Linked DNA regions of Homo sapiens. The protein of the gene in region 2 purifies or fractionates together with the protein of the main gene of each other region. This does not show direct contact. Each region holds a gene or a part of one and is shown on either strand. Other genes may lie near its edges.

Region 1 (2,655 bases), on a different chromosome or scaffold from region 2:
CTGGATTACAACTCGGCAAGATGCTGGGGAGGTTTCTGTTAGGGTGGAGCTGGAAGCCATCAAGTTCCTGGGTAGAGATGACCTTTCAGATGGATGCTGACCCAGCAGGCTGGGCTGAGCTGGGACCAGCTCTTCCACTGCCCTGCTCCGAGCCTGCTCTGGTCAAGGTGGGCAATGCTGCCCTTCATGTACTTCCAGCCCCGGAGGAGCTGAACCTAGAGATACCTGGAAACCCAGCTTAGGGAAGTAAAAAAAAAATCACTGCATCTCATAATTATTGAGATATTTTTAAATTTTCAAGCTTTTTTTTTTTGAGACAGAGTCTTGCTCTGTTATCCATGCTGGAGAGCAATGGCACGATTTTGGCTCACTGCAAACTCTGTCTCCCAGCTTCAAGTGATTCTCGTGCCTTAGGCTCCCGAGTAGCTGGGATTATAGGCAGATGCTGCCACCACTCCTGGTTAATTTTTGTATTTTTAGTAGAGATGGGATTTTGTGATGTTGGCCAGGCTGGTCTCAAACTCCTGGCCTCAAGTGATCTGCCCGCCTCAGCCTCCCAAAGTGCTGGGATTCCAGGCGGGAGCCACCCACACTTGGCTCAAGCTGGGTTTTTTTTTTTTTTTGAGGCGAAGTCTTGCTCTTGTCCCCAGGCCGGAGTGCAATGGCGCGATCTCGGCTCACTGCAACCTCTGCCTCCCAGGTTCAAGCCATTCTCCTGCCTCAGCCTCCCAAGTAGCTGGGATTACAGGTGCCTGCCACCATGCCTGGCTAATTTTTTATTTTTAGTAGAGATGGGGTTTCACCATGTTGGCCAGGCTGGTCTCAAACTCCTGACCTCACGTGATCCGCCCACCTCCACCTCCCAAAGTGCTGGGATTCCAGGCATGAGCCACCGCACCCGGCCGGCTCGAGCTGTTTTTAAGAGGATATATCCTGGTTTGCTGCTGTGTAGTTTCCCCAAAGTCTCAATTTGATGAGAAAATAGAAAGACCACTAGAACGGAAAAATAAAAAATAAAAATTAGATTTCATCAAACTGGAAACCTTTGCTTTCCAAAAGATAACCATTAAGAAAGTAAAATAGCAAGCCAGAGGATCGGAAATTATTCACAACACATATCTGAGGAAGGACTCACACCTAGACCTGGGAATAACGCTAAGACCAGGCTGGGTGTGGCGGCTCCCGCCACCTGTAATCCTGGCACTCCGCGAGGTGGAGGCAGGTGAATCACTTGAGACCAGGACTCCGAGACCAGCCTGGGCAACACAGCGAGACCCAGTCTCTATAAAAAAAACCTTTTCTTTAAATTAGCAGAGCATAGTGATGCATGCCTGTAGTCCCAGCTACTCAGAAGACCGAGGTGGGAGGCTCGCTTGAGCCCAGGAGTTTGAGGTTGCAGTGAGCTATGATCGCACCACTGCACTCCAAGCCTGTGCGAGAAAGATCCTGACTCAAAAAAAAAGACAAGATTTCCAAGACCCAGTTTTTTAAATAGGCAAAAGAATTAAGTAGGCCCTTCCCAAAGACGCCACCCAAATGGCCAAGAGCAGACAAAAAGGTGTCATGCCTCTGGCACCAGGGAAGTGCAAGTTACTACAAAACGAAAACAAAAGAATCAAATGGATTTAATTGTCTTTTTGTTACTGATTTCCTCCTCAATTGCACTCTGGCCAAAGAATGTGATTTGTATTATTTACCTACATATCATATATTTATACATTATCATCTGCGAATTACTGACATTTGCTTTGGGTCCTAGTACCTCGTCCATTTTTAAAAGATTCCATGCGTGCTTAAGAATGTTTTCTCTAATGGGCATAAGTAGACCAAGTTTTTAACTGTATTATCCCATTCTTTCATATTCTTCATCAATGATCTAAGCCTCTATCAAAAGAACCTAAAACAAGGACAGCAAATTGAACACAAAATAGGTAGAAGAAAGGAAATTCATAAGAAAAGAGCAAAAGTCAATGAAAAAGAAAACAATAGAAAAAAAAAATCAATGGACCCAAAAGTAGGTTTCTTTGGGGAAAATATCTGTAAAAATGATAAACTCTTAGCTAGTCTGATCAGGGGGAAAAGAAAACACAAATGGCCCAGAGCAGGAATGAGAATGGACATCACTGCACAGAGGATACTGTGAATGATTTATGTAAATTGTTTTGATAACTTAGATGAAATTCTGCGACAAACCTATCTTTAAAAAAATGACAAAGGAAGAAACAGAAAATCCAAAAGCCTCATGTCTTTTTTTTTGAGACAGAGCCTCGCTCTGTTGCCCAGGCTGGAGTGCAGTGGTGTGATCTCAGCTCACTGCAACCTCCACCTCCTGAGTTCAAGTGATTCTCCTGCCTCAGCCTCCAGAGTAGCTGGGATTACAGGCATGCACCACCACACCCTGCTAATTTTTATATTTTTAATGGAGACGGGGTTTCACCATGTTGACTAGGTTGGTCTCAAACTCCTGACCTCAGGTGATCCATCCACGTTGGCCTCCCAAAGTGCTGGGATTACAAGCGTGAGCCACCATGCCAGGCCTCATGTCTATTTTTAAAAATCAAGTTCTTAATGAAAAACCTAAGCAAAAAGAAAATGGCAGGCATAGATGGCCTCACCCATCACATCTCTATGAAACAAATAATGCCAATCCTATAC
Region 2 (3,500 bases):
AAAAGATAGAACTGCAAGCCAAATTACCAGGAAGAAAATAGGAAATAATGACAAGTAAAATTAATAAAATTAAAAGCTAACCCAAAGAAAAGATGAACAAAGCTGGAAATTGGTGTTTGAAAAAGACGAATAGAAACAGACAACCCCCTGGCATGGTTGCTTTTTTAAAAGGGCATAGGCCGGGCACAGTGGCTTACTCCTGTAATCCCAGCACTTTGAGAGGCCGAGGCAGGCGGATCAAGAGGTCAGGAGATCGAGACCATCCTGGCTGACACGGTGAAACCCCGCCTCTACCAAAAATACAAAAAATTAGCCAGGCGTGGTGGCGGGTGTCTGTAGTCCCAGCTACTCGGAAGGCTGAGGTAGGAGAATCACTTGAACCCGGGAGATGGAGGTTGCAGTGAGCCAAGATTGCACCATTGCACCCCAGCCTGGGCGACAAGAGTGAAACTCCGTCTCAAAAAACAAAAAACAAAAAAACAACTAAACAGCTGGACGCGGTGGCTCAAGCCTATAATCCCAGCACTTTGGAAGGCCGAGGCGGATGGATTACCTGAGTTCGGGAGTTCAAGACCAGCCTGACCAACATGGAGAAACCGTTTCTACTAAAAATACAAAATTGGCTGGGCATGGTGGCCCATGCCTGTAATCCCAGCTACTCAGGAGGCTGAGGCAGGAGAATCGCTTGAACCTGGGAGGCGGAGGTTGCAGTGAGCCAAGATCAAGCCACTGCACTCCAGCCTGGGCTACAAAAGCGAAACTCCGTCTCAAACAAACAAAAAACAGAGCAATGGACCTGAGAGGGGACAGTGGCCACAAATCTTCCTACAGAAACAACCCCCTGGCATAGAGAGTGTTGCCAGTGGGTTCTACCAAAATGCAAGCACAAGAGAATTCCAGCCTGAAGCAAACTCTTCCTGCAGAAGGAAGAAAGGGGAACACTTCCCAAGCCACCTTATGGGGCCTACAGAGCCTTGGTACGGAAACCTGATGAGAAAGGCACATGGGAAAACCCATACGCCTCATTCACACACACATGCAGATGCAGAAATCCCACACGAAATATCAGCAGGCCGGGCACAACTCACACACCCCAGCACTTTGGGAGACCAAGGTGGGAGGAAGATTGCTTGAAATCAGGAGGTTTTTTTTTTTTTTTTTTTTTAAAGACATGGTCTCACTCTGTCACCTAGGCTGGAGTGCAGTGGCACGATCTCAGTTCACTGCAACCTCTGCCTCTGGGCTCAAGCAATCCTCCCACCTCAGCCTCTGGAGTAGCTGGGACTACAGGTACATGCCAACACACCCAGCTAATTTTTTGTATTTTTTGTAGAGACAGGGTTTCCCCATGTTGTCCAGGCTGCTCTTGAACTCCTGGGCTCAAGTGATCTGCCCGCCTCAGCCTCCCAAAGTGTTGGGATTACAGGCGTGAGCCACGACGACCCACTGACCCTGTCTCTTTAAAAAAAAAGAAGAAAACATCAGCAAACCAAATCCTGCAATGTTAAAAACGGTAGGTTTTTTATTTACAGAATAAATACATCTGTAAATAAAAAGTTGGTTTGATATTAACAGAAAAAAATCATTGAAATTCACCATATTAAGAGATTAAAAAAAACCTCTAAGAACTCTCTGCCTACTGCTATGTTTTGATTTTTTAAATCTAGCAATCTTGCTCAACCCAACAGATGTAGATCAAGTGTTTCAGAAATCACCTATTCACGCTAAAACTCTTAGCAGAGGGGGAATGCAAGGGAACTTCACTAACTTGATAAAGGGCATCTATAAAACACCATTCTGGCTGGGCGTGGTGGCTCAAGCCTGTAATCCCAGCACTTTGGGAGGCCGAGGCGGGGAATCGCTTGAGGTCAGGAGTTTGAGACCAGCCTGACCAACATGGTGAAACCCCATTTCTACTAAAAATACAAAACTTAGCTGAACATGGTGGTGTATGCCTGTAATCCCAGCTATTCAGGAGACTGAGGCAGGAGAATCGCTTGAACCAGGAGGGAGAGACTGGAGTGAGCCGAGATCACACCACTGTAGCCTGAGCAACAGAGCTAGACGTCGTCTCAAAAAAAAAAACCACCACCAAAAAACAAAGAACAAAAAAACCCCCAAACCATCATCCTTACAAATACTACAAATATCACACTTATAGGAAATGCTGAAATATTAATCATCCCTTTAAGCAATCAGGAACAAGAAAAGTGCAGTAAGGCAAGAAAATGAAAATGGCTGAAGTTGAGCTGTGAGGTGGTGCGGGTGCTCCCTCTGATCAAGTGAAACACACACCTATCCTGTGACCTGGCCGTTCCACCCCAAGAGAAATGAAAGTGCAAGTCCACACAAAGACCTGCACACGAATGGTCACAGCAGCCTTGGTTCATAGCGGCCCCAAACTGGAAACAAGTCAAACACTTGAATTAACATGTGACCCGGCAAACTGTGCATTCATACAACGGATACTACTCAGCAACACTGGGAAATCTCAGCATCAGAGATGCAACCCATTGTGACAGAAATCAGATCAGCGGTTGCCTGGAGCAGGGCAGATTGGCTGGGAATGGGTACCCAGGAACTTTCTGGGGAGATGACGATGGCCTTTATTGTGATGAGGGTGTACAGCCAATTGTACAGTTAAGATTTGCGCACCAACAAAAGACGGCGAGAAAACCAACAATGGAGCGGAGGGTGGGGAGTGGGTCAGAAATGACCCTTTGAGGGCCAGTGACTGTGAGAGCCCCAGGTGAGGGGGCTTCCTGGGTGCAGAGCATATTCTGTTTCTTGATCTAGGAGCAGTTTCTGTGGCTGTGCTGAGTTTGTGAAAAGTCATCAACAAGCTAGACCTGCACCATCTGTGTTCTTCATGACATGTATTTCTTTTTTTTTTTGAGACGGAGTCTCACTCTGTCGGCCAGGCTGGAGTGCAGTGGCGTGATCTTGGCTCACTGAAATCTCCACCTCCTGGGTTCAAGCCATTCTCCTGCCTCAGCCTCCTGAGTAGCTGGGACTCCAGGCACCTGCCACCACGCCCGGCTAATTTTTGTATTTTTACTAGAGATGGGGTTTCGCCATGTTGGCCAGGCTGGCCTCAAACTCCTGACCTTGTGATCCACCTGCCGTGGCCTCCCAAAGTGCTGGCATTACAGGCGTGAGCCACCGTGGCCGGCCCATGACATATATTTCAATAAAACATGGTAAAAACTAATAGTCTGGGCGTGGTGGCTCATGCCTGTAACCCCAGCACTTTGGGAGGCTGAGGAGGGTGGATCACCTGAGGTCAGGAGTTCGAGACCAGCCTGGCAAACATGGTGAAACCCCGTCTCTACTAAAAATACAGGCCAGGCGCGGTGGCTCATGCCTGTAATCCTAGCACTTTGGGAGGTTGAGGTGGGTGGATCACGAGGTCAGGAGATTGAGACCATCCTGGCCAACATGGTGAGACCCCGTTTCTACTAAAATACAAAAAATTAGCTGGATGTGGTGGTGCGCGCCTG

Evidence for each region. The genes of interacting proteins can lie anywhere in the genome.
Region 1: the proteins of G6PD (region 2) and LRPAP1 fractionate together in Homo sapiens (co-fractionation; one large-scale study listed by BioGRID). This does not show direct contact.

Annotation. Positions count from the first base shown.
Region 1 is NC_000004.12:3,505,768-3,508,422, forward strand, and holds part of LRPAP1 (alpha-2-macroglobulin receptor-associated protein precursor), read right to left. Parts: 3' UTR 1-2,655. UniProt on the Homo sapiens protein: Molecular chaperone for LDL receptor-related proteins that may regulate their ligand binding activity along the secretory pathway.
Region 2 is NC_000023.11:154,536,847-154,540,346, forward strand, and holds part of G6PD (glucose-6-phosphate 1-dehydrogenase), read right to left. Parts: intron 1-3,500. UniProt on the Homo sapiens protein: Catalyzes the rate-limiting step of the oxidative pentose-phosphate pathway, which represents a route for the dissimilation of carbohydrates besides glycolysis.